Linked DNA regions of Homo sapiens: regions 2, 3 and 4 are each linked to region 1. The links come from fine-mapping of genetic effects on gene expression. A gene starts in region 1. Each other region holds a variant in brackets. All regions are shown on one strand. Distances are from middle to middle.

The links. PIP is the estimated chance that this variant, and not a neighbour inherited with it, causes the effect.
Region 2: its variant is fine-mapped to the expression of CKMT2-AS1 in whole blood (INTERVAL, PIP above 0.99).
Region 3: its variant is fine-mapped to the expression of CKMT2-AS1 in kidney cortex (GTEx, PIP 0.94).
Region 4: its variant is fine-mapped to the expression of CKMT2-AS1 in whole blood (TOPMed, PIP above 0.99).

What each region holds. Positions count from the first base shown.
Region 1 is chr5:81,297,243-81,305,488 of GRCh38, forward strand. CKMT2-AS1 (CKMT2 antisense RNA 1) reads right to left here and starts at 4,327. Exons shown (of 2, transcript NR_034123.1): 1 at 4,045-4,327. ZCCHC9 (zinc finger CCHC-type containing 9) reads left to right here and starts at 4,345. Exons shown (of 6, transcript NM_001131035.2): 1 at 4,345-4,456; 2 at 7,499-7,899. The coding sequence starts at 7,516. RefSeq lists enhancers at 4,074-4,863, 4,427-4,526, 4,677-4,856, 4,864-5,653.
Region 2 is chr5:81,226,993-81,235,238 of GRCh38, forward strand. It overlaps RASGRF2 (Ras protein specific guanine nucleotide releasing factor 2), which reads left to right. Exons shown (of 27, transcript NM_006909.3): 27 at 1-3,170. CKMT2 (creatine kinase, mitochondrial 2) reads left to right here and starts at 6,330. Exons shown (of 10, transcript NM_001099735.2): 1 at 6,330-6,385. The variant C/T (reference allele first, on the strand shown) is at 3,594.
Region 3 is chr5:80,378,115-80,386,360 of GRCh38, forward strand. No RefSeq gene overlaps it. Among named protein-coding and RNA genes, the nearest start is that of ZFYVE16, 26 kb to the right of the region's middle. The variant A/G (reference allele first, on the strand shown) is at 4,604.
Region 4 is chr5:81,235,646-81,243,891 of GRCh38, forward strand. All of the region lies in intron 1 of CKMT2 (creatine kinase, mitochondrial 2), which reads left to right. CKMT2-AS1 (CKMT2 antisense RNA 1) reads right to left here. Exons shown (of 2, transcript NR_034123.1): 2 at 1,920-3,710. Among named protein-coding and RNA genes, the nearest start is that of CKMT2, 6.4 kb to the left of the region's middle. The variant G/A (reference allele first, on the strand shown) is at 3,498.

The DNA of each region.
Region 1 (8,246 bases):
ATTTATTTTTTACTGACTCCTCCTCCTCACCTCCCTGATCCCTCTCTCCAGTTGTCTGCAACACATTCTACTGTGAAGTTTTTCTTAAAACTTCCCAGGAAGAAATATTTTATCTGTAATCTCTATATCACCATAATTCCCTCACTAATTATAACATCAGCTTATTAGTGGTTTAGCAATCTGTCTTACTCTCACAGGCTCTTGGCTGCTTAAGGGCAGGGACCTCTCTGTCATTTGTATATATTTAGCACTTAAGGTACTGGCAAATAGTAGACATCAAAAAGTGCTTTTTCCTCACCTATCCTATTTTACAGAATTCCATTTGTAACTGCAAGACCTCTCATTGTTCCTTGGAATGGACAGTCTAAGGCCCGTATCTGGTATGATTTCCTCAGACATAAGGAGGAGGAAGTACGCATTTCAGAGAATAAAGGAGAGCTTGCAAATCTTGCCACTTGTTTGTAATTTAGGTTTAAGTATTCATTTGAAGCACTTAACATCCTAACCACCGAAACACATGATTAGGAACTCAAATTTGAGAAATACAACAAGATGGTAAGATGAGTCAGAAGGATACATCATTTTTGTGATTAGTGTTCCAACACTATTCTTTATCACGTTTAAGCAAAGAAGATGAAAGAGATTCAAGCTTTTTCAGAGGGTAACACAAACTTTATATTATTCCTATTCCTTATTGCCTAGGAACCTCAAGTAACTTCCACTAATAGGTTTCTCTTGCTCCACACTTCCAATAGATTTTCTTTCACTTCTGAAATAAAGCAGTATTGCTTGTAATTTTGTTACTGAGAAAACCAACAATGCAAATGAAAGCATGTTAGTTAACAAAATTCAGTCACTAGCATTGTGTTCTATGGCAATCACTTAACTTCTCTGAAACTTAATTTATTGATCTGTAAAACAAGAAGATAGGGTTTTAAGAGGTATGTATTTCTATGAGTCTATAATTAGAAATTCTCATGTGCTGTGTCAAAACTCCCATGGATTAAAAATAACTCTTTAATAATGATTCTAAATGTAATACACACCCATTAAAGAATATCTGTAAAATTATGTATAAAGAAAAAAACCCTCACAATCCTATTACTCATGGGCCTTATTGTAAGGATCCTAAAGCAGCTAAAAATATCACTGACAGGTTTTTAAGATGTCAGAATGTCACTGGTCTGGATCTTATTTTTATTTCCAACAGCAGGGTCATTAATTTTTTTCCTCTCTCTTCTGCTGTATTTTTCTGCATACTATAAAAAAGTTCAATAACTGCCCGGAGAATGCATTAGGTACAGTTTTCCACACAATCCTCTTCTCCAGATCTATTTTATGGGATCTCCTGTATGATCTAAAACACTATCCACAGTTGTTCATTGCTTAAGCTCTAATGGATAAAGTTTGAACACTATAATTTCACATTTAAAAACACTTTAATTTGGCAAAATCTCATCCCAGCCTTCCTTTCCAGATTCACTGTTCTCCGTTCCAAATTGCTCTATAGGTAAACTGGCTGCCTGGAGGCTGTTCACTCTAATGTGTGAGTCAGTTAGAGGGATGGTCCACCCAGGCTGGGCCTTGGACACTTCTAGTCCTCATCACCTATTGGTCACTTCATCTAGGGTGGCCAAGCGCCTAATATTCAGAGAGAATCTGGGCAAGAATGAAGATTTAAAATTCTAATGGTAGTGGTTTCAATTCCTGGTAATATGGAATAAGCACACTCCACTGTCTCTGCCAGTGAATCAAGCTATAAATCAGCAATTTGAGGACTGGAAAAGAAACAGCAGCAGGAAAATTGAGAAGACGACCAGAATTCCTTATTTAACATTTACCTTCCTGATAATATTGTTATAAAAAATACATTTACAGTATTTCAATAAGTAGATGGGAAAACTGAATACAAACATAATCCCTTGAACTGTAAAAGTAAATACTTTCCAAAAAAAAAAAATCGAATTTGGGCAAGGATAACTTAGTAAAGTGTTTTAAAGTGGATCAAGTAGACAAACAATCCTCTGCAGTATTTCAAAGTAGCAGAGCACACAGGTTTGGATTGAGATCTTGGTTCAAATCCTGACTCTACCTCTTATTAGCTGTCTGACCTTGGATAAGTTACGTCAGCTCTGTGAATTTATTCCCTCATTGCAAAATGGAGAAAATAATAGTACCAACCTCACAGAATACTGAGTGGACTAATTAGGTAACGAATGCAAACCATTAAGCATACTGCTGGCACCTATAAAATGTTCAGTAAAGTTAGCTATTAGTAGCAATAGTTTCCTCCGAATTCCAAAGGACTTATTCTACGCCCTATTTGCTCAACTACTAATCTTTATTGGACATACCGCTACAAAAAGAAATCGGTATGTTCCTTTGCTTCCAAGAATGAACGACCTACAGTTTAAAATGCAATATACCACTAAAAAGAAAAGTTTTAGTTAAATGCGCCCTCTAGTGGTATGTTATGTGTAAGTACCTTGCATCTACCAAAGATAAAACCTCTTCATGAAATGTCACTACCCTGAAACCAGCTGGTTGAGATCATTACAGTATGGGCAGCACTACCACACATCTTTTAGGAAGTTCCCTATCTTCAAGAGCTGGAAGTTGCTGTTGTTTGTTTGTTGTCTTTTAAAACTTTCTCCACCATATGAACTACGGTATTTGTGATATGTACCATACCAAATCTCAACATTCCTACAAGCACTGACTTTAAAATCCCTTCTCTTAAAGAAAACTGGGCCACTTTCTAGTTTGCTTTAAACAAACATCGCAAAGTACTTATTCTTCATTTACTTAACAAATACGAGGGCCAGGCGCGGTGGCTCACGCCTGTAATCCCAGCACTTTGGAGGGAAGAGGTGGGCGGATCGCCTAACTCAGGAGTTTGAGACCAACCTGGCCAACATGGCGATATCCCATCACTACTAAAAATACAAAATCTAGCCGGGCGCGGTGGCGGGCGCCTGTAATCTCAGCTACTTGGGCGGCTGAGGCAGAAGAATCGCTTGAACCCGGGACGCAGAGGTTGCAGTGAGCCGAGATCGCGCCATTGCACTCCAGCCTGGGCGACAAGAGCCAAACTCCTTCTCAAAAAACAAAACAAAACAAAACAAAAAAACAAATACGCAGTGAGCACCAAGGATGTACCAGGCAATGAGGATACAATAAACTTACACAATTATTGTGTAATTACAAATGTGAACCGTGTCATAAGAAAGTATAGACTGCCGTGAGCACACAGTAGGGGATTGGTCTAGTATGGGGGTAGGGGGCTGGAAGGCTTTCTTGAGAATAAAATACTTAAAGCCTTGAAGGGTGAGTAGAAAGTAACTGGAAGAAGAAAAGGAGTACCATACAAAGAGACTAGCAAATGTAAAGGCCTGGAGATGGCAAGGTACACACGGCATTTGAGAAATTGAAAAAATGATCCTATGCACGGAGCTCAAAGGAGAGACTGAGCAAGGTGAGGCTAGGGAAGTAGGCAGGGACTTCATAAGGAGTTCGAATTTCATCCTAAAACAATGGGAAGCGAAGGGAGAGTTTAAAGCAGTACAGCAGTACTGCTTTAAATGTAATGATTTACATTTTCAAAAGTTCCGTTCCTACGACACGGAAAATGGATTTCAGGGAGTTGGGGCAGAATGAATCCCCAGACCAGTTGTAGAACTACAGGTACAATATGGGACAAGGGAGGAGGTGCCAACAGAGATAAAAAGAAGTGGACAAATATTCAAAAGGTTAAATGGATTGAGCAAACTGTTGAGAGTAGTGGTCCTGGTAAATTGCATTTTTTCACTAGGCACAGCTGGTGGTGGTATCCATTTGCAAGAAGCTACAGAAAATGAGCCGTTTGGAAATCCAGGGTTTTCCTCTTAAAAAGAGAACTTGTTTGGCTACAAAGTGTTAACATTTTAATTGAATGCTCAACGAGCACTGAAGGGGGGACATGAGGCACTGCCTCTCACCCAAGAGAGCCCCCAAATGTCCTTTTCAGACTTTTATCACAGTGACCCACTCCCACCGCGCCTTTACCTTGCCTCTGCCTGGAATGTCCTTAACTCCCTCTTGCCGGCAATTTCACCAGATTTTTGATTTCTTATCCAGTCTCACGGGAAGCCTTTCCGGCATCTCCCACCCTACCGATCTTCCCGTCTATCTCGCCTGCTACACTGTGAGTTCAGACAGCACGGATTGAACTCTTCATCTTTTCGTGTCGGCGTCCTGCACAGGGCCATCCCATCACTAAGCGCGCCACAAACTCAGCCCAGTATTGACGCCCACGAGTCGCTTGTAAAGACCGTCTGTGACGCCGGAAGTGACGCGCTCTCGGGCACTATGTGCTTCCGGTCTCCAATACCGCAGGAGGGCGGTCTTCCCCGGCTCGCCAACTCGGCTGCTCTGGGGGATTCGTGCGCGGTAAGAAGCTGCGCGGTAGCGCGGTGAGGTGAGGTTCTCAGCCACCAAAGCTGCAGGGTCTCGTCGTTCGTTCCCTCTGGCCTGGCGGAACTTGCGTGGGAAGCTGGGAGGACAGAAGGCTTAGCCGCTGGGTCCCTGAGCTGGCTGGAGCGCGGGCTGTCTAGGGGCGGCGACCTCAGCTGTTGGGCTCCGGCTGCTGGGGGCTGTGCGTCCAGCCGCCCTGGAATCCGCCTGTGGGTGGGCCGCTTGGCTCTCCCACTTCACCCTCTTGATAACCCAGAGCCTCCCCCTTCCCACGTACGTAGGGGAAGGATAATCTACTTCCTTTTGAACAGCTTCGGTCCCCACTATGACAGTCGCATAAACTTCAGCGAAGAGTGCGCTGGTAAAGTGGCATGGAGTTTCTCACACCAATTCATTGGGTCCACCCTTCAGCTTCTGTGGAAGGGGTCTTTCTGTTACTAGGAGCTGAGACTTGGGGGGTTGCCAGGGATGCTGGTCTTAAAAGGTGATAATTTAGGCCGGGCGCGGTGGCTCACGCCTGTAATCCCAGCACTTTGGGAGGTCGAGGCGGGCAGATCTCCTGAGCTCAGGAGTTCGAGACCACCCTGGGCAACATGGTGAAACCCCTTCTCTACTAAAATACAAAAAATTAGCTGGGCGTGGTGGCACGCGCCTGTAATCCCAGCTATTCGGGAGGCTGAGGCCCGAGAATCGCTTGAGCCCTGGCGGCAGAGGTTGCAGTGAGCCAAGATCGCCCACTGCACTCCAGGTTGGGCTACAGAGTGAGACTCCGTCTCAACAACGACCACAACAACAACAAAAAAGGTGGTGGCTTAATACAGCCATGCTCCCCTTAAGAACTGGTATAGTTATGAGAAATGGTTGGGCCGTTTCGTGGTTGTGTGAACATCATAGTGTACTTGCACAAACCTACACAGCTGGGCCGTATGGGATAGCCTGTTACTCCTAGTCTACAGACCTGTACAGTATAACTACTAAATACTGTAGGCAGTTGTAAAAGGATGGTGTGTATCTAAACACAGAAAAGATACTGTAAAAATATAGTGTAAAAGAAAACATGGTACAGCTGAATAGGGCACTTACGCATGGAGCTTGCAGGGCTGTCGGTAGCTATTAAGTGAGTCAGTGAGTGGTATGTGAGTGTGAAGGCCTACGATATTATTTAGGGTATTACTGTACACTACTGTAGACTTTATAAATGCGGTATGCTTAGTCTAAGTTTATTAAAAATAAGGTAATAACCTTAGCTTACTGTGCTTTTTTAACTTTATAAACTTTTAAATTAATTTTAACTCCTTGACCTTTTTTTTTTTTTTTTGAGACGGAGTTTATTCTCTCTGTCTCTCATTTTTGAGACAGAGTTTTGCTCTTGTCACCCAGGCTGGAGTGCAGTGGCGCAATCTCAGCTCACTGCAACGTCCACCTCTTGAGTTCAAGCGATTCTCCTGCCTCAGCTTCCCAGGTGGTGCGCGCCTGTAGCTGGGACTACAAGAGTGCGCCACCACGCCCAGCTAATTTTTGTATTTTTAGTAGAGATGGGGTTTGACCATGTTGGCCAGGATGGTCTCGATATCCTGACCTTGTGATCCACCTGGCCTTGGCCTCCCAAAGTGCTGGGATTACAGGCGTGAGCCACCATACCCGGCCCACTCTTTTGTAATAACACTTAGCTTAAAATGCTAATGTGTTGTATAGCTATATAAAAATATTTTCTTTATTCCCTTACATTATTCTATAGCTTTTTCCTGTAAAAATTTTTTTTGTTGTTATAAACTAAGACACACACATTGTGCCTACACCGGGTCAGGAGCATCAATATCACTCTTTTCTTCCTCCACATCTTGTCCTACTGGAAGGTTTTCAGGGGCAGTAACATGAATGGAGCTGTCATCTCCTATAATAACTGCTTTTTTCTGGAATACTTATAATTGTCTAGTATTATGTACAGTACATCATTGTAAGCATTATGCTTGTATATGACTGGCATCCCAGGTTTGTTTACACCAGCATTACCACAGACATGAGTAATGTGTTACACTACAAGTTATGAGGGCTACAAAGTCAATAGGAATTTTTCAGCTCCATTATAATCATCTGAGACCAGTATCATGTGTGCAGTCGCTGTTGACCTAAATGTTATGTAGCATGTGACTAGCTGATGAATCTTTGATTATGGCTGAATGTTCTCATTCATTGCAGGAAAAAAATATCCTCCAAATCACTAGGTAGTATGTAAGTGACCAAAACTTTTTTCCATTTTATGTTGGAGCCAAATCATTAGTGTTAGGATAAATTACTTCTTTATGTATGTGCTCTAAAATGAAAAGTTATTTCTGAATATTAAAGCATATGTATTAAGAGTATAAAAACAAGATACAGATTTTGGTGTGAAATATATCTTATGATTCAAGTCATAATTTAAATAGAATTGAAGATGATGTGAAATCACTGGGCTGGAAGTAGCTTATACCTTGATTAGTAAGAGGAAGCCCGGGATCATCCTGTGATGGTAAACACTTTTATATGTTTTACTTATAACTTTGCCAGGAAATTTCAACAAACTTCATATTAAAGGACATGATTTCTGTATACTTAGTAATCTGCTATGCAAATTGTTGCATTGAAATGGCAGACGAAGCAAGAAGATTGGGAGAAAGTAGCTGTGGGACTTGGAGATAGGAAAATAAACAGCCGGGAAAACTGCAGAATGTGGGAGGAATAATTGCATTCATTGTATTACTATCTGATTTATATTTTATGAAATAATTTGGTTTCTTAAGATAGTTTTTCAATTTTAAGCACACCTTTTTTAACTGGTGTGGCAGCTTTTCTGGTAAGTGGTAGATTTATGTTAGAAGCATGTCTATGCAGCATATTATAGCATTAAATATGTATACAGATATCTAACTGAAATAAAAAGTGTTTTAATAATTAAAAGTTTAACATATGGGCATATGTGACATATAGTGATATAGCATGTCTCTTTAGTTTTGTTGTTTTTGTTGTTGATGGCTAACCACCCATGCTTGTCTTAAAAATTGATAAGGTACCACTGATGAAATTATGACCAGGTGGGCCCGAGTTAGTACCACATATAACAAGAGACCCTTGCCTGCAACATCATGGGAGGACATGAAGAAGGGATCCTTTGAGGGAACAAGCCAAAACCTACCAAAGCGTAAACAACTTGAAGCCAATAGGCTATCCCTCAAAAATGATGCACCCCAAGCAAAACATAAAAAGAACAAAAAGAAAAAAGAGTACTTAAATGAAGATGTGAATGGATTCATGGAATACCTAAGACAGAATTCACAGATGGTTCACAATGGGCAAATTATAGCAACAGACAGTGAGGAAGTAAGGGAAGAAATTGCAGTTGCTTTAAAGAAAGACAGTCGACGGGAAGGAAGAAGATTAAAAAGACAAGCGGCAAAGAAAAATGCAATGGTGAGAGCATCACTTCTACCATGTTATTTACTTTATTTAGCTGGAAACTATTCTTATATTCACACACATATATACCTTAGCCAGCTCTGGTTACCATTATGTCCCAGATTTATAGAGCATCGTTTTAAGGACTAGTACTTTTTTAGCACATATATGCTAGGCACATGATGTACTGGTTAATTATTACAACAACACAGCAAAGGTGATGGCATATATTCCCATATTATGGATGGCAAACACTGAAGTGCAGATAGATTAAATAACCTGTGGAAGCCACTTAGCTAGTAGCAGAGGTGACATTCAAACCCAGCCTGACTTCAAAACCTACGTTATAGACCAGATGTGGT
Region 2 (8,246 bases), 70 kb before region 1:
TTGTTGAAGAAATAGGGCTATCTCATTGTTTACCTCCCTCTTCTCTTCTCAGGGAGACTGCTGCTTTAAAAGAAGGAAGAGAAAAAATATAGTTCTATTTCCCTGAACCTGTTGCACCTGACATTTTCTCTTAGCAGCATGAAACTTATTGATGCTGACAATGAAAAATGGATCTGTCTGGCTGCTTTCCCTCTTTCCTTGCACTTTAATTATGTTGCTAGAGCTAACAGACTAATAAATTCCACCTGCTGGCTCTTAAGACTCAGTGAAAGAGCTAGCATTGGTAATGCACCATAGAGGTAGAGAATGTACACTTTCTGCACGGTAAGTGCCATCTCTGTATGTAACTATATAGTGAAATATCAACTAAGTAAAAGAAAATATAATATTTGAAGACCATTCCCAAAATATTTTCAATAGTTCATATTAGCCAACAGTGTAGCACTCAACCCAAGGAGGGTTCCTTATGGATGCTTTCTTTTTCTTTTTTAAAGTTGCTTGTTTGTTCTCTTTAGTTTCAAATAAGAGGTTGACGCATCTTGATGCATGATGAGAAGCATGGGCTGTTTGGATCCTAACAACGCATAACTTGTGATTTATTTCTCAGTGCTCCAGAAACTGAGGGTTTGAAATAATATGTATCAGTTGCACCAAACACCTCAAGGTCTTGCAGAAGAAAAGTAAAGGTTAGCTTTCATGGCTCAAAAGCATAGTCCTGAAGGGTGAACTAAAACCGGGACAAATCTGTGAGAGGACCACACACATACTAGTTTCGGGCCAAACAACACGTGGAAAGGTGCATGCATTCTACTCTGCCTTGGAGTTGCCAGAGTCCTTCAGAGGGAAAGGGATGGTTCTGTGTGCACTTTTTCTGGAAGTTCGGACTCATTTCTTTGACCCAAATGTTCCAGAGACACTGCAGCCATTCTTATTAACAAAAAATAAGACAGGAGTTTCCAAATGCTCCTTCCCTTTTGGATCGCAGCTTTTCTTCAACTAGTGACAAAGCTTTTGCGCCTATTTCCTGCAGGATGTTGGAACTGCCCCGCACTGGTCATATTAGGCACTGTCAATTGCTATGCTGACTTTTAGGGGGTTTTTGTTTGTTTGAAAAACAGGGTCTCACCATGTTGCCCAGGCTGGTCTCGAACTCCTGGACTCAAGCAATCTTCCTGCCTCAGCCTCTCAAGCAGCTGGGACTGCAGGGGTGTGCCACTCACTAGCCTTTCGCATTTTTGTTTGAGAATTACACCACTTTCTGGAGTCTGCAGCCTTCCTGGAGCTGCAAGAGGGCAAGAGAGAGAGCTCCACCTCTGAGGGAGTGTCTGTTGATGACCTGCACTATTCGTGTGCCAGCTGGGAGAGGAATGCACATTTTAAAATCCCTTCAATTTGGTCAAATTAAAAATCCCCAAGAGCAATTTGCAGTGTTTTTTCTGGTCGTTAAAGTACCCATCCTCTTCTGCCTACACACAAAGCATGCATTCCCAGCTGCATCTGCCTCTAGTCCATTATGGAGACCCATTTCTAAGAGGAGATGGGAGGTCAACCTCTAACAGCCAAGTAGCGAACATGTATACTGTAAAATTAACCTAGAAAATCAGAAGAAAAATCCAATTTCATGCTTTCGAATGAATGCCCACATTTTGTACTGTCAACGAAATTATCTTGGAGCTTTTAGGGGATGCCTTTTCGTTATTAACTGAGACATCTAGTTTTGCTACAGGGACAAATCTCTTACCTAATCCAATATATTATTTGACAGATTCAGGCATGAAGTAAAACGTCGTCACTTTTCCTTAGTGCTTTTCTGAAGGAATTTAAAGACGGAATTTTAAACGGCCATTGCAATATTTTCAAGTGGCTCTCATACCAAGTCCCATTACTGTTTGTTAAATTTCAGTACGTCTTAAAGTACTACTTATAAACAAATGAAACTCAGAGAAACTGAATCACCTGGAAGAGAAAAATCCATTATGGTCCCATGTGGAGTGAATAATGATGGATCAGCACCCTTTCTCTCATGTTATTGTATAAGACGAGACTTTTGGGCCAGCAGCGATTGGGCAGCTTTTAAATTCTTAACTGAAAAGAGTAATGCAATACAGGGATTATTCCCAATAAAATTAACTTTTATTTAAAAGCAAGAGATTTTACTTAGCTTTTTTTTTTCAAAGTTTGATTTTATCCCCTTGAAAAAAAATCTCTTCACTTTAAAGTATAAAGGTTTTTAAAAATCCAATTGCAAAATGTATTATTTTTACAACTATCGAAAAGGCATAAAAGAGAACATACTATTTATGGCTGAAGGGTATAGCCAGGCTAATGTGCACAGAGGGAATCAATAAATAAAACTCTTTTTCATTTCAGTAAGAAATCAGATTGTAAGTTTAATGGCTCCATTATAGATACCACCGTGTAATAGAAGACTTAAGTCAATGAAATCTAATCAGTGTGTCATTTCTCAGCGGCCATTGGTGACTTAAAATTAAGATGAGGCAGAGCCAAAATGGAAAACAGTCATTTTGTTGTAGGTATAAACACATGAACGATTCAGAAAATTATTCATCTCAGCTGCCATGCAGCATGACATTAACATTAGGATTGATAGCACTAGTCTGATCTGCTCAAGGAAAATAATAGTTCTATTATACTTAATGATGTTGGTTTTTACACAGCTCATTTCATTTTTCACTAGAAAGCCAGTTATGAAAGAGAGCTGGCCTAGGCATCCCGGCCCTGAGTCCTAGGCCCAGTCTCCAACTGGAAAACCTTAGGCTGGTGTTTACACATCCCTGAGCCTCAGTTTCCTCATCTGCAAAACGGTGTGAATAGTAATCCCTGTGCTGCTTATCTCACAGGGCTATTGTGAGGACCAAATGGATTAGACTGTAAACTGCAAAGTGCTGTCCGCACATGAGGTCATCTGATTACTGTCCTCAGATCTCTTTTGTAGAGGATTTCAATGTATTTCTTTATCATTTGAGTGTGTGTGTGATGGACGAATATGTGTGTGAGTTTGAGAAGCATATCGTTCGTGTCCAGTTACTTTGCAAATTTGTGGACATTTGTGATTGGACAGAGGGGTTTGTGCTGTGGCCTAACACTTGCCAAGTGAGGTGTAGGTTATGCCTATATGCAAATTAAACTTCACCTTTCTTGAATATTCAGAAATCTCACTGGTTTCTTCATTTAACTCTTTTTCCCCCCATTTTTCTACATTGTCAACTTAAAACCATGAAATGTATACATTTAGAAAAAATAGAACTTAATTTCTTATAAAGGGTTACAATCTGCAGGCTGGAGCCTCTGGCCAAAGCCAAAAGCAAGCACTTCAGATAAAAAAGGGAGAGGCTGAGATTTATGCCCAACAAGATGAGCCTTACATATACATTTAGTAGGTTATAGGATAATCTTATGAATATTTATGAGAGGCCCTAATGCATGCATAGCCAGTAATCATATATGTTACATGTTACATACAACCCATGTTCACTTTGGGATGGAGACTTAAAATGTAGTAAAATTGGGCTCTATATGTCAAAAGATGGAACACAGGGCACAAAGACGCTTGGTGTGCAATCTCTGTAAAC[C/T]GGCCAGAACCGGCTGTGGTCTGTGGTCAGTTATGAGGATGGAGTGCTTTGTAAGGCTGAACACTTGTCAGGGGGAAACTGCGTTGAGGGAAGGGGGGGTTCGCCACGTCAGGTTGTCTGTTGAAGTTGAGGAAGAAATCTTCCAGACATAGTTTTTCAGTAACTGGTTTTAGTTTAATTTTAGGAAAGAAAGTCTTGAGGCAGTTATCGAGGTGGGAGAGCGTTGGGTGTGACTGACCTCTTGCCTTGCCAAAGCTGTAGAATCTGGTTTTTAATGTTTCCTGGGGTCTCTTTTTACCACAATGAGTCTGTTTTGTTTTGCTTGGGGGCCTAGGGGCTTTATTTTTATTTTACATCTTCTTCATAGCAGTGAACTCCTTCAGATATATTATTTACTTCTAAATATTACTTCTAAAGTTCAGGGAGAAAAACAGTTTAGAAGAGGCCCTAAAATTCAAAGAATTTGGGGAAAGCTTTGAAATGATACGAAGGATCAACTAATCACACTTTCTTTGCAGTGCTTAGATTCTTCCTGTGACATCCCCAGCCTATATTTGATACCTCCAGGCACAGAGAACTCACTACTACCTGGAACAGCTCAGTCCATTGCACAGCAGCTCAACGCTCCTGAATGGGTGGTGGAGAGAGGAGAAGCCGCCAGGGTAGAGTCCTGGCCTAATAGTCACCAGGCTCCACCTAGGAGGGGCTTCTGAAATAAGACTCCTGTCTACCCCTAAAATAACTGCAGTGGTTATATGGATTACTATATATGAAAATACTTTAACTTCTATGAAGTTGTGGCAACATTTAGAGCTGATGGAATTAAGTTACAGTTGCTGGACACAAGAATAGACTAAGGAAAGGGGTCCCTCCTGCCCAATTCTGAAATGAGCAATCCAGGCTGGTGCGACAGAGGAACCCAGGTTCCTTTCATCCTATTACTTGCTCATCCCACAAGGCGTCATCCTTGCCTTCGAGGTCAAATCTGGGGCCTGCTCTAGCCACACTCCTGCTGGACTCAGGAACAGAAAAGAGAATAAGTCCAGGACATTTTCCTTTAAAGCAAATGATATGGCAGTCGCACACTTCAATTCTGTTCCTGCCCTTATGGCAGAAGCCAGCCACAGGGCAGCCTGGTGTGGCTAGAGCCCCAGAGCTTCAAAAGGAGTTGGTAACGATGAGAAGGGAATAGATGCCATGTGACAGGGATGGCATTTGAAAGATTTCCAGAAAGCCAGAATTTCTACTGTGAGTCCCTTGTAGAGATTTCATCCCCATCACACCACCTTTATAATAAGCTTGAAGAGGACCAGTCCCCCAAAAGAAGGGTGGTACCCTCTTTTCTCAACAATGACCCAATTTTTCTTCTGACCTTACTAACATAAACATTTACTCTATAAAATATAAGGTGTTGAGGTCGGGTGAGTGGAGGGGGCCCTAAATGTTGATTAGGCAATTGGGGAGGAAAAGGAGGTTTTTGCTATAACTGCCATTCTTTAAATCTACAATTCCATGCTCTTTAAAAGCCTTATAATTTTCTGGATCTGGGAGCTGGGCTATTTCAGGGTCAATGGATTTATTTCAGTTGGTGCCTGAACTGACTTGAAACAAGTGTGTGTGGAAAAGAGCTATTTTGAGAAGGAATAAACCGAGACTGCCCTGATGATAGAATATGCAAGCTGGTGGGTCTTGACTCCTTAAAGGATTATGAAATTAATTTGATTGGTCCCAATCTTTATATAACCACCCCAATCAGGAAACTTCCCATCCCGCCAAAAGGCCCCCTCACGTGCTCTCCCTGTCAGTACCCCATGCAAAGGTAAAATAGATGATATTTTTAAACATGGGTCGTGTTTAAAAGAAATGGAAACTCCTTCAGAGAATGAAGGAGAACCACACTGGGTAGAAGGTTATTCCTGGGGCTCCACCCCTTGCTCCATCAAGTCCTCTGAGCATGAGCTGGGCTCTGAGAAGGAAGAGACAGGAACCAATTGGTCATGTCCACGTGGCCTCAGAAGCTGAGTACGTGACGGTCACCAGATGCCTAGGCAGGCTCCCTTGAAATGGCAGGGCTGCTGTCCAAAATCCTGCTGGGTCATTGCTATTTACAGGCAGCCTTCCCGGCGTGCGGTGGATATCCCAAGCGGGGCTATTTTTAAGCAGGGCTATGGCCTGCCGTGGGTTAAGCTGGTGTGGACAGAAAGCGAGATGATCTAGCCATCTACTGCAGGGGGCCTGATCTTGAACAGAAACCTGACTGTAATTGTCCCTGGATCCAGGTCCCAGACAAAGACGCTGGAAGGAGGTCCCTCCAGCCCCTGGCTCAGGGCCCGGTCAGCTGCTGGAGCCAGGCAGCTTGAGACATCCTCCTCTCCGACCTTGGCTTGAGGGGTTCATCCTCCAGAGCTCACCAGGGCCCCAAGGCTGGTACACCTGAGAGAAGAGAGAAACAAATCCCCCAACAGATGTGCAATTTCACCTGCTGGCCCTTCCATTCTGAGATCCAGAGCCCTGGCAAAGGAGCCTCCAGGACCAGGCCTGGGAAGCAAGACTGGCTCCGCCTTTTACGTTTCAGAGAAAGGGCAGGTGCTATAAAGGGCCCAGCGCCCACGGGCCTGCCTTCAAGGGTACAGCTGTGGGGGCCGGTGCGCCCGGAGGTCTACGCTGGGATTGGTGAGGTCCTCTGGCCCCGCCCCGCCAGGGAGGATTTCCAGGCCGGCCCGACCAGCTCGCCCTGCATACACTTCTTGGCTGTGTGCGCTCAGCAGGACGTGGGAGGCTCCGGCTTCAAGGTCGGTGAGTCCGTGAAACTCTGCTTTATTCCTCCAAAGAGGGGTCATGGCTAGAGCCAGTGTGAAGGGCCTTGGAGGAGTGGATGCCGGGCTGTAGACGGGGACCCCGTTAGGACGCTGACTGCGAGGAGGCAATGGTGACTCGCTAAAGCCAGCAGAGCTCCCGCCCTTGGCCGAAGCGACCCCTCCTCCCTGCACACAGGTGGGGGCAGCTCAGCACCAGGAGCAGAACAAATCAGCACGCTGCCTGCAGGGCCTCTTTTTGGTAGTGAATCAGGAATTTTTCTCGATGGAAAAAAAAATCTAAAGGCTGTATTTTGACGCTAAGTTTGGGACAACTTTAAACTTAAAGTGTCTTTCCCTTGTAATTCACAGAGTCTAATCCACTCATTTCTGGGAATGTTTTTCCCCAGCAGTCTCAGTCTCAAAAGACATGTAAATCAGTGACTTGGGATGAACTAACTAGAAAATTAAAATTTTGAGAAGCTATTTGCTCATAAGCCCAATAGCCAGGCCCAGTTTAAACGGGCAAATAGTATTGCTAGAGATTCAGTTTTGCCGTCACTAATACTAACACATTGATAATGAGACAAGTAACCGTCTCCCCTCCCCACCATCCTTACCTTTCCCACCGGAGGTTAATTAAAAAAAAAAAAAAAAAAAAAAAAACCTATGGAATTGGCCCCACGTGTTTCACCTGGGCAGAGGCCTGTTCTTCACTAGCTTGCTTGCTTGGTTGGTTGTCCCGGGGTTAAAATCAGTCCTGTTCTTGCCCCTAGAGTGGTCTGCCTTCAAATGCTCTCCTCCGAATGTGAGGAAGAGTGACATTTGACAAACAGACCAAAACCTTTAGGTCTCCTCAGTGCTGCCCTTTAGACCTTCCAGAAAGTGTTGCCAGGCTCGTGACCCCTCACAGTGTCAGCTGAGTCAAGTGAGGGGCAGTTAGTGGCCCTCAGGACAAGGTTACGCTAGGTACACCAGTGTGCTGTTTCCAGAAGGGCTGCTTTTCCTGTCTACGGCTCTCACATTTTCTCTGTTCTGAACTCGTGTCCTTGGTCTGTTCTCTCTGTCCTCTCATAGAGGCGAGCATGGCCACAGCATGTGGCCAGAGACTTCCTGACAGGCAGGCTCTTCCGGGAGGCTCTTGGCCTTGTTTGGCGGTCTGAGCACTTCACTTCCTCTGCATTGATAGGCACCTTTTCCAAAGACCCCAGACTTTGGAGTTAATCACGCCTGTGGGTTAAGGCACTGTCACAGCAAAGCACAGGAGTGCCACATGCACCCCATGGACTCTGCCAGCCTCATGACCAAATCATATCATTAGGAAATGGGCCATAGGCAGGTCAGTTTTCCTAAGGAAACTGTGGGTTGGGTCGGGGGGAGTACCATACAGAATGGGGAGTCCTGGGGTTTCAGACACAGGAGGGAGACTGACTTTGCCCCTAGCTCAGAGGCCCTGGGCCTCCATCTCTGCCATAGCCTACAGCAGGCTCCATTTGTCTTCCCAAAGGAAGCCACGTAGAGTCTGTGTCAAGCATTCTGGGAGCTCCTGCCCACAGAGCCAGGAATCCAGCAGCAACCCATGCTGAAGGTGACTGCTGGAGGTCACACTAACCCTTGCCAGGAAGCCTCAGAGACTCCCTCCCTTGGGCGGGGAAGAAGGCAGCCCACTTCACAGCACTTCAAAGGACTAGATGGCTCCTAGCTTCCTGTTTTCTTGAAAACAATTTACCCTTGAGGGACAAAGTCTGGTAACGGTCCCATGCCTTCATCACAGGAGGCCTAGGAAAGGCCTCTGTTTTACAGAGTAGGATTCTAAATATCTCCTTCCTGCCTAGGACTGTCTATTTGCTGAGTAGAA
Region 3 (8,246 bases), 920 kb before region 1:
TGTCTACCACTTACATAGCATCCAAAGGAAAAAAGATTTCTGAATTTTTTTTACTTTTAAATAAAAATATCTACTACTATAACAAGATGTGTCTTCTATGACGAATAATTCAAAGAGCAACCAGCGTAAGTGTTTGAGAGTGTGAGATATTGAACTAGCATTTATGGAGCACTTTCCATATGCCAGGCTCTGAACTAGATAAGGAAAACAAATCTCAGAAAAGACCAAACAGTCACCATGTGGAGAAAAAAGTCAAGATGCAAATCCAGGTCTTTCTGCTTCTGAAGCAAAGATTCCAGATGAAGGTTTGTAGCCTATATTTAACACCATGATTAACCCACTCAGACACATTTGTTGTGGTCTGTACAATTTTTTTTTTGATAATTTGAATAGTCAATATTTAAAAACCAGCTGACTGCATAAAGAAATCCAGATTTCTGACTTCTCTTAATAAATTGACAAAGGTGGCAACACTGGGCCTGACCTGACAACTGTCACTCAAGCTAAGTCACGGAGGGTCCTTTAGGTAGGACCCACGCCTTTTTAGTTGGAGGTTTTCTTGCTTGTATTACCTAATGGTGCCCACAGGCTGGCTTCATGCATGTGGGTCATGGACAGTCCTACCGGCGCGCATGCTTAGAAGATACTTGTGCTTGAATTAATGTTCTGCTATCACTATTTGAAATTCATTAAAATTCTTGATCAAGGAGTCACAAATTTTTATTTTGCACTAGGTCCTGCCAATAGGCCTTTGCATTTACAAGCTCTGCCCTAAAATTCTTGCTTTTTTCTTTACCTTGTGCTACTTGTCTTACCTTTACTAAAAGTTTTCTCATCAATTCAGCAATGAATTAATATTAGTTCATTCCTATCTATTTTTCAGGGATGATCAGATTTTATGGGGCCTGAAGCTGAAATAATTTGGAAGGTTTTCTTTTAAAAATATATAATTACAAATGTGAATATTTATTTAAAATAATAAAAGAAGACTGGGAGTGGTGGCTCATGTCTGTAATCCCAGCACTTTGGGAGGCTGAGGTGGGAGGATCGCTGGGAGTTCAAGAGCAGCCCTGGCAACAGAGCAAGACTCTGTCTCTACAGAAAAGTTAAAAAAAAAAATTAGCCTGGCATGGAGGTGCATGCCTGTAGTTCCAGCTACTCAGGACGCTGAGGTGGGACGATGGCTTGAACCAGGGAGTTTGAGGCTGCAGTGAGTTCTGATTGCACCACTGCACTCCAGCATGGGTGACAGCAAGACTTTATCTCCAAAAAAAAAAAAAGATGTTGTTTCTTTTTTATTTATTTATACATTTTTGCATGTTATATAATTTATTCGTGTTAGCATTCAGACATTTTTAGGTGGGGAAGATGATTTGCAGAATTCACTACAAGGTACAACAGAAAATCATATTTGAAAGGACGGTACATCTGGTGCAGACCGGCAGTGGTACGATTCCAAACAAATGTCAGACGAGAGCGCTTCATGGGGAGAAACTGAAAATAATAATTTAAAGCTTCATGAGGCAAGATATGTTCTAATTTAAAACACTAAGAAATAGTACCATTAGTTTGTTTTCTAAATTCTCAATGAAATTAGCTGGGTGTGGTGGTGCACACCTGTAATCCCAGCTACTCAGGAGGCTGAGGCAGGAGAATCGCTTGAACCTAGGAGGCGGAAGTTAAAATGAGCTGAGATTGTGCCATTGCACTCCAGCCTGGTCAACAGAACCAGAGTCCCTCTCTAAATAAATAAATAAATAAATCCTAAATGATATGTACAGAATATGTCTGGGAAACAGTAGACACCTAATTATTTATATTGATTGACAGTTTAAGGGACAAAAGATTAAAATTACAATTATAGGGTATAATAATAGCTATAATAACTTTTTTCTCAGTATGGTTGTATGGTTTATGGTTTACTGATAAGTTCACACATTTTTAAATTTCTGCGCATTTTGATGAATAATAAAGAAGTGCCTTTAGCTAATCAAAGGCAAGTTAATCACTTGCTCAGGCACAGAAGGGAAAAAAAGCTACTGCAACACAGAATAAAGAAATTGTTCAAGGAAAAGTTTTTCATTCAAAAACCACTGCCATAAAACTTCAAAATGCTATGTTTTACGTGATCTTGTTTATTCAAATTCCCAAATTTTTACTCCCAAGGGCTGCATTGGTTTAATCCAAAATCCCTTATGTCAAACTGCATAAAAATACTTGTTAAAATGCCATCTTTTGTTATCATGAGTTGGCTACTTAGACAAAAATCCAATTCATGTCAGAATTAAAGATGTTTATATCAAGTCCTTTAAGAAAGACTGAATGTCAACATAAATTGAGAAGTTGCCTGTTTTCTGGGTATTTCTAATTTTCAGGATTAGCTTATGTAATCAAACCTCATGGAAAAACACTCTACAAAAGATATGTTGGTATTGTGTATAGAAATATTTTGTTTGCAGGCCGGGCATGGTGGCTCATGCCTGTAATCCCAGCATTTTGGGAGGCTGAGGCAGGAGGATCGTTTGAGGTCAGGAGTTCAAGACCAGCCTGGCCAACATGGTGAAACCCCATCTCTACTGAAAATACAAAAAATTATCTGGGTGTAGTGGCACACACCTGTAGTCCCAGGTACTTAGGTGACTGAGGCAGGAGAATCACTTGAACCCAGGAGGCAGAGGCTGCAGTAAGCCAAGATCATGCCACTGTACTCCAGCCTGGGCAACAGTGAGACTCCATTTCCAAAACAATAAATAAATAAAAAGAAAAATTTCATTTGCAAATTGTATTTAAAAGTTGTATGACGTGTTGGCCGGGCGTGGTGGCTCACACCTGTAATCCTAGCAATTTGGGAGGCTGAGCTGGGCAGATCACTTGAGGTCAGGAGTTTGAGACCAGACTGGCCAACATGGTGAAACCCTGTCTCTACTAAAAATACAATAAACAAACAAAAAAACAAACAAATAAATATTAGCCGGGTGTGGTGGTATGTGCCTGTAGTCCCAGCTACTTAGGTAACCGAGGCTGGAGAATCACTGGGACCTGGGAGGTAGAGATTGCAGTGAGCCGAGATGGAGCCACTGCCCTCCAGTTTGGGCAACAGAGTGAGATCCTGTCTCAAAAAAAAAAAGTATATCAAGTGTTTACTGGCCAACATTCTAAAACTCTGGACATTACATGATTTAGAAAGAATCTTGAAAATCTACTTAACAAACTAAATATTTTAAAAAGGAAACAGATTGACTAAGGAAAAATAGAATCTGTAAGTGTGGTCCTTTAAGAAATGACAATAACCAGTTGTTAAGCAGAAGCAATTGATATTTAAGATGTATTTCTTTTAATTTCCTTTCTTTTGTGTGTATATTCTAATTTGTTATGCAAAGTTTAGGAATAATAGTTGTTTTTTTTTTAACTTCAACCCAAAAAACTATGATAGTTGGACTTTGCCAGAAGTTTATATCTTGGCAGAAGTATACAAGAAATATATTACTTTACAGCTCTTTTTCTTGTCAAAGTCATTAATATTATATAGCCTAGAACTTACGCAGAATGCTAAGTACAGTCAGGCACTTCTTAGTCATTTTCATGATATTGGTGCTGAATATTAGGCTACATAATTTTAATTCTGTGCCAGATTTACAGAAAAGAAGCTAGCAATCTTTTGATACATTATGGGAATATTGCTATATACATAGCATTATAATTATGTTAATTATATATTGTTAGCAGTTATACTAGAAGTTACTTAGATGAGATTGCATTTGGGTACTATTAATACAATAATTGATGTAAACCATTTATTTTGTGGTTGTGCTAAACAGACAGATATGTAATTGGCACTTGTATAAACTGAATGCTTGACAAATAGCATCTGCTGTATAAAAATTATCCATTGAATTATGGAAAATAAGCCAAACTAGACATTAAAAATGTACAAATCTACTATAAATCTTTATTAATTTCAGCAGCATGGTACTGGTAGATCAATGGATTGAAACAGATTTCCTACAAGCATATGCCAAAATGTGACTATCTCTTAGACTTTCCCTGGTCCCAGAGGGTCACTCCTTTCTCCCAAAGCCCTTTCAGCCCACCCTTTCAGAGTCACCCTGTGTCTTAGTCCATTCCTCTTGCTATAACAAAATATCTTAAACTGGGCAATTTATAAATAATAGAAATGTATTTTGCACAGTCCTAAAGTCCGAGATCAAGGTACCAGCATGTTCAGTGTCGCCAGGGTTTGCTGTCTGCTTCCAAGATGGCATCTTGTCGCTGTGTCCCCTGGAGGGGATGAAAACTGTGTTCTCACATGGCAGAAGGGACAGAAGGGCTAAAAAGGGACAAACTCACTCCTTCAAGCTTTTATAAGGGCCTAATCACCTCCTGAAGGCCTCACCTCTTAGTATATTGTGTTGGGTCTTCGGTTCCAATGTGATTTTTGGAGGGACACAAACATTGAAACCATAGCACTACAGGTGCCAAGTTCACCTACCATTTTCCTCTCTGCTCCTTTATTCTGCACCCACATCCTAACTAGGCACTTTTCTGTTTCAGGCCTTTCCTCTTCCTTTTCTGCTCTCTCAGCGCTTCCACTGTCTAAGTTTCA[A/G]TTAAGACTACTATGCAAATAACCTTCAGTTCTGAGCTAAAGATCCTTTTTTGACTTCTCTTACCTATGCTTCAAACAAGTTTTTGTCTGCCTATCCGCAACCTTGCCAACATCTCAAACTTAATACGTTTAACTAAATTGGCCTTCACTGCCAAAAGGCCTTCCTATTTCACATAACTTAATTATTTTACTCATTTTCTTTTAGATCCTGGCTTTCCTCTTCCTGCGTAACCAAAGTTTCTAAAGACTGGTTCCTACCTGACTTTACTTGTTTACCTCCATTCTCTCCTCAATCTTTGAATTTTCCTCCTTTACCCCCAGTCTATTCACTGCAACTGATCTTAAGAAAATTTCCGACAGCTCTATCTTATTTGACCTCTTTGCTCCTTTTGACAATGTTGACCTTTGTAAATCTCTTCCTCCTTGACTTTCATGATAACTAGCTCTCCTAATTCTCAACCTAGTCCTTTTGTCCTTCTGTGATTTCTGTTGGGTTCTCTTTCTGTCCACCATGTAAATGTTGGTCTTCCCCTAGGGTTACATCTTTGACTCTCTTCTTCCATTCTATATCCTCTATAGTAAAACTTTGTTATCATGGCTAGTAGCTGGATCCTTTTCCCATATTCAGATAATTTCTCTATCTTATAAACTTTGGTAGAAGGTAATGTTTGACTTCTCCCTCAAAGAAAAAAAATAAGCTAGGAATTATCTTTCTCAGTTTTCTTTATAGCTAGGACAGGATAAAAGTGTATAACCAAGACTATCAATCATATACACTCAACGTGGAATAGCAATCATAAGGGCTTCCAAGAGACAGAGGTTGTGGAAAGGTAAATTCCTGGGACACCATTGGCAACAGGGCTGCAATCAATCTCCAATATCTAGTGACAGTAATACCATATCAGTTCTATGGCAGGATTTTGGATCCTATTTCTCTCTGTGACCTGAGGCTAGTTCTCCAGCCCTCTTGAAAATTATTTGTGATATTTAATATCTTTTTGGTAAATTTCTTTTCTCCTTTTAAAATATCCAGTGTGGTTTCTGTTGTTTGTAACTAAGAATCCTACACAATTAAATCCTGAGTTTTGACTCCTACCTATATGCTCATGGATCCCAAATCTATCTCCTGACCTCTGCTCAAACTTCTAAATCTCTGTTGGATATCTCCACAGGCAACTCAAAACTCAACATCTCCAAATATGGACTCATCGTCTTCTTCCCAAATCAAACCTATTACTCTTATTATTTTTATTATGAATACCACAATTCAGCTAACTCCACTCAAAAGAGGACATCTAGATTCATTCTTATTTTTCACACTTGTTCATTCATAAACAGAGTATGCCAACTCTGTCTTAGGTACTATGACATATCCTAGGTGACTGACAAGATAAGTAAGACACTGATCTCAAAGATGTCACAGTATAGTGGGATACTTTTTTAAAAGAAACGAAAATACTCCATCAACTTTAAAATTCAACTTCTTTTGCCTCCTGCATGATCTTATTTTATCAATTATATATTTTAATTTGTAAACCTTAAGCCTCTTGCACTTCACCAGATCTTACCCATCAACCCCTTACATTATAAACTTGTTTTTCTAATCTTAACTAAACTAAAACTAACTGAATTTAGGAAACTAACCTAAAAAAATCCAATCTAGCTAGATTCTGTAAACAGTAATCTTTGCTCAGTGATGTCAACTCCTCACTTTTGTAAAATTAAAAAAAAAGTTTAACCAAAATAATGTATGTGTACGTTAAGTAACTTTAAAAGTATTAGTAATAATAGTTAATAGCGATTGAGTTTTTATTTGTTCCAAGTATTGTTTTTAGCCTTTCATGGAAATTATCTTATAATCCTCACAACCATATGAAGTAAGTACTATTATTATATCCGTTTTGTAAATAAGGCAATGGAGTACAATAACATTTATAATAGAAATGAACAGTCCTCTGCCCCATTTTTTCCAATTGGAAGCTATTCTACCCAACTCTTTCGCAGTGTCAGTTCTTGTTAGTAACCTTCATATTTATAAATAATGCACTTATACATTATATCTTGATACATCAAGTTTAGACATTGTCTTTTAACTTGATGATGCGTTAGATAAGACTTTTTCTTACTTACATACCCCCAGCACAAACTTCTGCCTTTACCCCTTCCCCTAGCCCTGACAATGTGGTTACTTATTCTCAAATCGTCTATTAATGGCACTGCCAAATTCAAACACACTTAAACCTGCTTTCCTTGATCTATCAACTATGAAAGTAGTTCATAGTTTGCAGTGGGCCGAGATTGGGCCACAGACAGAGTGAGACTCTAGCTCAAAATAAATAAATAAGTATATATACACACACACATATAAATACATATATATGTATCCACATATAACATATATATGTTTTATATATATATGTTATATATATATATATATATATATATATATGTATATCCTGCTGTACCTGGGCATGGTAGCACACACCTGTAGTCCTAGCTACTCAGGAGGCTGAGGCAGAAGGATCACTTGAGCCCAGGAGTTTGAGGTTACAGTGAACCATGATTGCTCCACTGCACCCCAAGCTGGGCAGCAGAGTGAGAGCCTGACTCTAAAAAATCCTGCTTTTATGGAGCTTATTTTCTATTAAGATGATATCAAACAAGATAAGCAGGTAAAAGATATGGGATGGTCTAAGGTAACAAAAAATTAGTTGGAAAGGGAGATGTTAAGTGCCAGGTGTTAAATTTTTAGATAACATAATCAGGAAAGTCTCACTAAGGAAGGACTTTTTGATTAAAAGCCTAGAGAAAGTGGGGGAAGATGGGGAAGAACATTCCAAGTCGAGGGAAGAGCAAAGACTGTGAGACTATGAAGAGACTGACCTGTTTGCAGAACATGGAAGCCACCCTGGCTATAGTGAGAAGCTGGGGTCAGGGAGAGGATGATGGCTAAGAAATCAGATCACATAGCCCCCAATAAATCAAGAGGGTTGGGGGCTGATGCTTTGAGGATTGATTGGAGACATGTTTAGAAGAAACTTCATCGGCATGTGAATAAGAGAGTGTGTGTGTCTGTGTGTCTGTGTGTGTCTGTGGCGGGTGGGTAGTGGTTTGGGAAAAGGAGGCAAAGTGGGTGACTCCCAAATTTCTGTCTTGAGCAAATAAGTGAGTACAGTTCACAAATACAGTGGACACTGGAGAAAAACTGGTTGGGTGAGAAAGATAATAATTTAAAATTGTAATATGGGAAATTTTAGTTCTTTTGTTTCTCCCACAGGACACAACATTATTAGGTTATACAACATACACAAAAATGCTAAGTTCAAAAACGAAAGGGAATTCTATATGTCTATCTTTTTAATGGTACTGTGTAAGTATATTTGTCAATTAGCTAATACTTATTGAGATTCTATTATGTAACAGACACTGTGCTAAGTATTATAACACGTTATCATGAGAAATGTAAGTAAAAATTGTCAGCAATTAGTTGAATATAAAGGTCCGTTGCTCAGAAAAGGGACATGGGAATCTTCAGCACATGGTGATAATTGCAGCCTGCAGTAGATTAAGTCATCTAGGTGTGGTGGTGGAGAGGGGCAGGCCTTAGAACTGAGCCCTGAGGAGATCTGTCATTTTGTGTTCT
Region 4 (8,246 bases), 62 kb before region 1:
AGGATGTCACAGAACCAGAGAAGAGCATTAAGACCAGGATCTGAACTCCCAGTATACCTGCCTGGGACCAAGAAATGTACAGCTTGTGGCCACTTAACAAAAGGGCTTGATGTAGCTGTCGTTGTTTTTTTAATGCGGAGGGCAGTGTAGGAACAAACAGGATATTATTGCTTTTGGCTCTGTCTGGCTGTGCTCTTGCACCTCCCCATCGCTCCAAATCTCCCTGGCTTGGAGCCCAGGTATTCTGCCAATTTTAGCCTAGATGCTGTAAGCAGTGTTTTTCAATTCAGGAGTCATTGTGGTGTTCCAGGTTAGGGAAACTGAGGCAGAAAGCTTCTATGGGGTGAGAGCTGGAGACCACCTTCCTCTTCACACTGGCACAGCATCCCTAGCAAGGCCTGGCAGGCACATTGAGCACTAGAGTCAGAGTGGAGCGGGCAGAGATATCCCTGGCGTCTGGGTTACTTCAGCGGGAGCCTGAGGACAGGGAAAGAGAACAAGTTTATAATCTGCAACTTTAGAAGTCATATGCCCTGAGGTGACAATCCTGTGCCTAGGAGCTGCTGTGTTAAATGCACTTCTACGGTCTTGGGGGTTTGACTGAGTGGAATGATCTGTGGCACCACAGGTTTTAAGCCACAGGGGTGGTTTCCCTCCAATTGCTGGTCAGTGAAGGGCTGTATGTGAGGTGCTGCGGTCTGCAAGGAAGCTGAATCCAGTGCAAAAGACAAACCTGGGTTCAAATCCCAGCTCTACTAGTGTGCTGGCACTGAAACCTGGGGCAGGTCACTTCTCTTGAGCCTCTGTTTCCCCATGCCCAAAATAAAGCATACTTGGCAGGATTGTTACATAGACTGATTGTGTTTGTAAGGTCCCTTACATAATGCATGGCTCATGATAGGAGCTCATAAATGCTCAAAAAGAAGACAGAAGGTTTGACTCAGTCGGTGTATAGGGTTGGAAAGGATATTCCAGGGGAAAGAAAACACTCAAGCAAAGGCTCAGAGGTGGCAAAGTGAAGGACCTGTTCAGTGATGCCAGGAAGTCATTGGAGACACTGTTGGAGGGGTGGAGTCTGGAAGAAGAACTGGGGAGCCCAATTGGTTAAATCCATTTTGTGAACCCCGATGTTGGTTTTCAGAGGATGATCAGTAGATCTGAAAGTATGTGATAGACACCTTTGAAGTCTTGTCCGCAGAGATAGAAAATACAAATTAAAAGAAGGCAGCTGTGGTGGTTCACACCTCTAATCCCAGCACTTTGGGAGGCTGAGGCAGGTGGATCACTTGAGGTCAGGAGTTCGAGACCAGCCCGGCCAACATGGCAAAATCCCATCTCTACTAAAAGTACAAAATTAGCCACATGTGGTGGTGGGCGCCTGTAATCCCAGCTACTTGGGAGGCTGAGGCAGGAGAATTGCTTGAACCCAGGAGGTGGAGACTGCAGTGAGCTGAGATCGCACCACTGCACTCCAGCCTGGGTGACAGAGCGAGACTCTTTCTCAAATTAAATGAAACATTTAAATGCGAAAAATGTAAGTTAAAATCAAAAAGCATTCAGAAAAGGGGCAGGCCGAGTGCTGGCTGGAATAATCAGGTGTGGCTTTGGGGAGGGAGTGATGATGATCCCATAGCCTTAGGGTCATCAGGGGAAGGGACTCATTTATTCAGTGCCTACTGCAGCCTGTCCCGTCGTCTTCACAACACCTCACAGGGAGACCTCATCATGCCCATGATGGGGAGGAGCTGCTGAGGCTCGGGTGGGTACCAAGCAGGGTTCCTACACCTAGCGGGGCTTGGTAACATCCTGTAATCGGGGAGCTTTTTCTCATTATACATGTGAGGGCCCCACTCTTGGAGAGACTCATTCAAAAAAGGTGGAGCCTAGAAATCCAAAATTTTAACACACATCAAAATTTTCTTTTTTAGGTTTTTACTTTTTTATCATAAAGATAACACATGCTTATTTTTACAAGTGATACAATACAGAGTTCCATTAAGAGAAAATTAATCTGCCTTCTCCGAGTCCGTTACTCTGAAGCAACCCTTTTAGCAGTTTGATGAATATCCTTCAATACTTTTATGTTCATACAAATACATGAAAATGTATATGTATATATACATCATTGTTACAAATTGCAACCGCTCATATTCAGTCCTAAGCAAGTTTTTCTTTTCCTTTTAACCTAAAAAGGTGTCACAGATGGGCCTCCAGGTAAGTGGAGGCAGTTTTAACTCCTTTAATAGCTGCAGAATATTTCACCATCTGAATGCACCAGCATTTGTTGAGTGGCAGTGCTGGGCTTCTCAAACTATCTGTGGCAAAATCTCTTATTAATTTCTAATCCATAGCAGACTCACACATTTGTAAAATATGATAAAGTGCAACTATTAGAAAAAGAGAATAAGGCTGGGCGTGGTGGCTCACACCTGTAATCCCAGCATTTTGGGAGGCCAAGGCGGGCAGATCACGAGATCAGGAGATTGAGACCATCCTGGCTAACATGGTGAAACCCCGTCTCTATTAAAAATACAAAAAATTAGCTGGGCGAGGCGGCAGGCGCCTGCAGTCCCAGCTACTTGGGAGGATGAGGCAGGAGAATGGCGTGAACCCGGGAGGCGGAGCTTGCAGTGAGCAGAGATCGCGCCACTGCACTCCAGCCTGGGCGACAGAGCGAGACTGTCTCAAAAAAAATAAAAAAACAAAAACAAAAAAAAACCAGGCATATAAAATGCCAGCTCAAAATTTAAAAAGTAAAATGACTATCAAAGTGCTGTAGGTGTTCTAAATGCTTAATCTCAATTCCTGTACTTACATCGTCACGAACTGCTAACAGCCCACAGACCACACTTTGGCAGCATTGGTCTGGGGTCAGCCTTCCCTAAGTTGAAAAAATCACTCTTCTGTGAAGACCTTGTCACTTTTCACCACCTCCAAATTCAAGTCCCAGGTCTCACAGTTTGTTCCTTTGGCTATGGCTCCAGTGCCACGTGCTTTGGCTCCAACCTGTCTCTGCAGTCCCTCCCCTGCCTCTGCCACTCATGGCTCCTGCCTCTGCACATTCTGTCCACTGTATCTGGAAAGTCCTCCCTTTATCCACCAGGCAAGGTGAAGTGATAGCCCCGAAGATTTTTTACCTCTTCTAGAAAGCCCTCTCTGACCCACCAGGCAAATTTGGGTCTTCTCTCCTCTTTACTATTTTTGCTCTTGTCCTTTGGATTATAGTGGTAGGTTTTTATAGTGATCTGTCTCCCCCACCTGGCTGTACCCTGAACTCTATAAAAGCTCCTTGAGGGCAGCCCCAGTATCTGACACAAGGATTGATTCTCTAACGTTTGTTGAGCAGATGGAGGGATGGATGAGCAGATGGATGGATAGATGGACAAACGGATGGATGAAAGAGCTTCCAGGCTTAGCTCTCAGGCTGTAACGTAATCTTTGCTGTACACAGGCCGTGAACTGGGTGGTTGGCCTTGCCCATGTTCAAATCCATTTCT[G/A]TTCTAGACTCCAGAATCTGTCAGGGCTGTCTTGAACCGTGGGTTTCCTTGAGGCCCTCTAGGGTACGTAGCCACCACAAATTCCAGCCAGAATCAGTCCTAGCTTAATTCAACTCTCCAAATTTCAGGGGAATTATCTTCCGTAGAGTCCCTCCAGAGGCAAATTTGTATTAGTGACAGTGGCCCAGGATGCTGTGTCCTCATCTTAGGAATCTGGACTAGGAATAGAACAGGGGACACATTTAGCCCTTTCTTTTTTTTGGCAGCATTCAAGGGCAGGCTAAGTCTGCTCTGGGCTGAGGGGAATGGCCATTTCCCCACCTGGAAGATGCCTGGAAAGCAGCTTTGGGGAGGGAGGAGTGGGGGCACGTGGCATCCACAGTCCTCCACTGATGCACATGGGTGTGCAGGGGTCTATTCATCGTTTCCACTCGAATCCTTTGCAGGGTGTGACCTGTCCTAGTCCCAGGGCAGGTGGAGGCATGCAATACAGTACTTTGGTATGCTTAAGACCTGACAAGGCTCCTCAAACAACATCGTTGAATGGTCTGTCCCATAGCCAACCATGCCCTCCCAGGACCCCCCAACAGGCTCTGGCTCCCCAAGTAGAGCACAAATCACACACAATTTCTAGTTGCCCAGCAGAGGGCCGTGGTTAAGAGTGTGGACTATGACTGCTGGCCAGAATCCCAGCGCTGCCACTCACAAACCATGTGGTCCTGGGTGAGTTATTTTGCCTTTCTCTCCCTGCATCTGCTCACTTGTAAAATGGGAATAACACGAGCACACAGCGTTTTTTTCCTCAGACTAAGGACTCTGGAAAAGCTGCCACATAGTAGGTAAATAGTCATCAGATGAATAAGTAGACAAATACATATCTCTACCCCCTCCTCACCCCCTCTTTCCCCTCCCTCCAATGCTGCCCACCATGGCTTCTCCCTACCTGAAACATATCAGTGTCATTCACCCACTTGCCCTTGACTCACATGACCCGCTGACCGCCTGGAAGCCTGTAGTGAGTGGTGTTCCTGCGAAGGAAGGCCCCAAGAGCCATCCCCTGGTTCTGCTTCCCCTCAGTGCTGCCTGGAGTGACACCTGTGTGCTGTGGGCATTTTGGCCCCATACTTAGCCTCCCCTCGGCATCAGCCTATGGAAACCCTGCTTAAGGGAAAACACTCAGCATACCTGAGAGACCAGGGAGGATCTGAGGCAGCTGGAACTCTCTGGCAGCTCCATTCCTTGGGAGACAAAGGGTTAATGACAATGGCCCAGAGGAATGGGGGCACACGGCATCCACAGTCCTCCATTGATGCACATGGGTGTGCAGGGGTCTATTCATCGTTTCCACTCAAATCCTTTGCAGTGTGTGACCTGGTCCTAGTCCCAGGGCAGATGGAGGCATGCAATACAGTACTTTGGTATGGTTAAGACCCCATCTAGACATGCTGTAATATTTGTATGGTAAACTATTGTGAGTGAAAGGATCTTTATTTAAATGAGTGCCTGGTGCAGAACAGACACTCGATACATATGATTTCCCTTTAGCTGTGTGACCTTGGGCTGTTAGTTAATGTCTCTGTTTTTGAGTTCCCTCCTCTGTGACATGGGATACCTACTTCTTGGGATTGTTTTGAAAAAAGTACCCTGCCCTTGAAAGCACTCGAATTTTGTTTTCTCTCCTTATTCAGATATTAAAAATGTTATAATAATTACAGTTATCCAACAGTAAAATGGGTTGCTGTGGCAAGTGGTGGGATCCCCAGGACTGCTGGTATTTAAGGAGGGCTGAGGGAAAGGGATGCCTGAATTTCAGCTGAGGTAAATGACCTCTAAAGCCTCTCAGGTTCCTGACATTCATTCACTTACTCATCAGACATTTAATGATAACCTATCATGTGTGGGCCAGCGTGCTTAAGAACCAAGACAAACTGTGGCCCAGTTCTACATTCATTGGGTCTTGTCCCTCTGAAGTAAAGGATGGACCCAGTGATTGTCCCTTGTCCCTTTGATGCGTGGAATTCCCAGTGATTGTCCACCCGACTGGAGCCTTGCCAAGCTTCTTACACTGTGCCTTCCAGCACGTGGAGGGAGGAAACCAATTCCTGCTCCTCGTGAATTCCAGAATGTAAGTTACCCCACAAGCCCATGCAAAAAGGGGAAGAGCTTCCTCCTTTTTCTTAGAGCATTTCCTTTAGAAAACTTATATTTTGCTGCCCCTTTGAAATGTATATAAATCTTTTTAAAAGCTAAGTAAGGCTCCAGTCGATTTTACAACCTAGGACTCTTTTCCTGCAAGGGCCTGGAAACCATCTCTTTGAAAATACAGACATCAAGGAAGATAGCTCCCTACCTCCCACTGTCAGTGGGAGGGCAGTGGGTAGTAGTTTCATTTAAGCACCTGGCTCCAAGTTGTAAAACTACCTGCTGTCCTAGAAACTTGAGTTTTATTTTTCCTTTTGATAAAGGCAATTAGCGAACACAAATGGTCACCAGGTGAATTTAGGATGAATTATGCTTGACAAATGGTGCTGTCAAGTCCTCTTACTTTAGTTCGAGAACATGTATGTAATGAATGGGTCCTATTTGCTTGCCCACATAAAAGGGTGGGATGTCTGTCTTTGCAATCTCCTTAGCAGAATGCTAAAGATGTGCATCACTAGTTTAATGTTTATTCAATAATAAAATATTTTCTTTTTCCTATATTTTATGGAGAGGAATTTCTGGGGTGGGAGGAAATTTAAATTGTTTCCCCAACACCTAGCACTTGCTCCTCATCTGATTCTTCCTTTCCAATCTGCCTGCTCAGTCAGAACCCCTAAAAAAAAAAAAAAGGAAACAGAAGGACATGCACATTTAGGCCTTGTACTCTGCTGGCTTTCGTCTGTTATCTGTGGGGTAGTCTCTGCTGTGTCACATACGGACATCTCTGACGATGGGCACGATGAGCTCCCAGGGTTCAGACAGCCTGTCATGGTCAAACGGTCAGGAGCCTGCACTGGGCCACCCTAATTTGCAGATACCAGGAAACGGAGCAGGTACATGCTCAAAACCAGAACTGAGTGTCTCACTTGGTGGCTTTTATTGATAGGATTTCAAAATCCATGTCTGAAAGAAATGTGTGTCACATCATATAAGTAGATTTCATTCAAAAGTTTGTGGGCTTTTTTTTTGTGAGACAAAGGTTTGTTCATTTCTTGCATTTGAAGTACTCTTTGATGACATCCTTGGGCTGAGACTCCTTGCCATAGTCCTTAACTACTACACAACTGCAACCAACCACTTTACAGGGTTTCCCCTCTCTGTCAATTTTACAGAGGTCGCCTACTCATTCCCCTAGTTTCTTGTCATCAACCTTAATTAGGTTGATTTGGTGTTCAGCACAAAGGGCCTTGACCAACCTGACATACATAGGCTCATCAGAATTGGATGCAGGCACACAAAGATGGGGTTGGTTCTGGTTGCCCAGCATGCCAAAAAAGCCAAACATTGACGCTGAGATTTGTAGTGAGAAAAAGGCGTTTATTGCTGGGTGCCAAGCAAGAAGAATGGGTACCTAGCACTTAACACCTGAGCTCCCTGCTGGCTTATAAGCAAGGGTTTTTAAAGCAGGAGTGAGGGGGTATCCAAAATGAGTTAAGAGCTAGGGAATTTCTGGAACTTCCATATCTATTTTTTGGTTTCAGTCTGTCTGAGTTCTATGACAGTGGTCAGCATTTTCCATCTGGTGTGGGAATTGTTTTCTGAAAAGCAATGCAAGGGAATAGGTCAAGATGCTATCTTTAGTTTCTACAGGGAATCAAACATTTTGTGACTCTGACTTACTTGAGTGGCTTTTAAATTATTATCTTCTTGTTTAGCAGGTTATTCGTTAACTTCCCTAATTGCTGGCTGTAGGACTAGCTAGGTACCTGGAACTTCCCTTAAAGGGACTGAGAATGTTGCCTTGATTTCTATGCTTGGCACATGTGGGTAAGGGGAGGAGCCCAGCAGGGCCATAAGAGAGGTCCCTTGGGAAGACAATACAAACATTAGGAGTGAACAGAATAGAGATATGTGGCACTGAGTTTACCCGCAGATGCCAAAAAGGCACAGAGCACAAGGGCAGATGAATGAGCAGCCCATGAGTACACTGCGAACTGAGAGAGAATGCAGTCATCTTGAGCTAGAAGGGAACAGATTTTGTGGGGATTGAGGCACCAGGCTGTGGTCCAATTAGGCAGAGAAAGATGGACAACAGAGTCCAAACGGTAGGGGGTGATAAGAAGCAAGAAACAGTAATAACTGTTTCTAAAACAAATTAGATTTGTTGCATTAGCACAAAATAGAAACAGCAAACCAATATTTTAAAAAGTCATATACAGTATATAATATTAGAATAGAGATACAAATGTAGGATATACATGTGTGTTTTTCAAATTGAGATCATGCAAAGCTCTAGTGCAATGGAGCTGAATGTGAGGCTAGCTACTGTGTCCTGATGTTCTGGGCCCCCATAACAGGCCTTGAATGATGTGTGCAAGAACTGTGTGAGCTTTCATGAAATTCCTAATAGGATTTTTTTTTTTTTGAGTCAAGTCTCTATCACCCAGGCTGCTGGAGTGCAGTGGTGTGATCTCGCCTCACTGCAACCTCCGCCTCCTGGGTTCAAGTGATTCTCGTGCCTCAGCCTCCCGAGTGGCTGGGATTACAGGCGCGTGCTACCACACCTGGCTAATATTTTTTGTATTTTTAGTAGAGACAGGGTTTCGC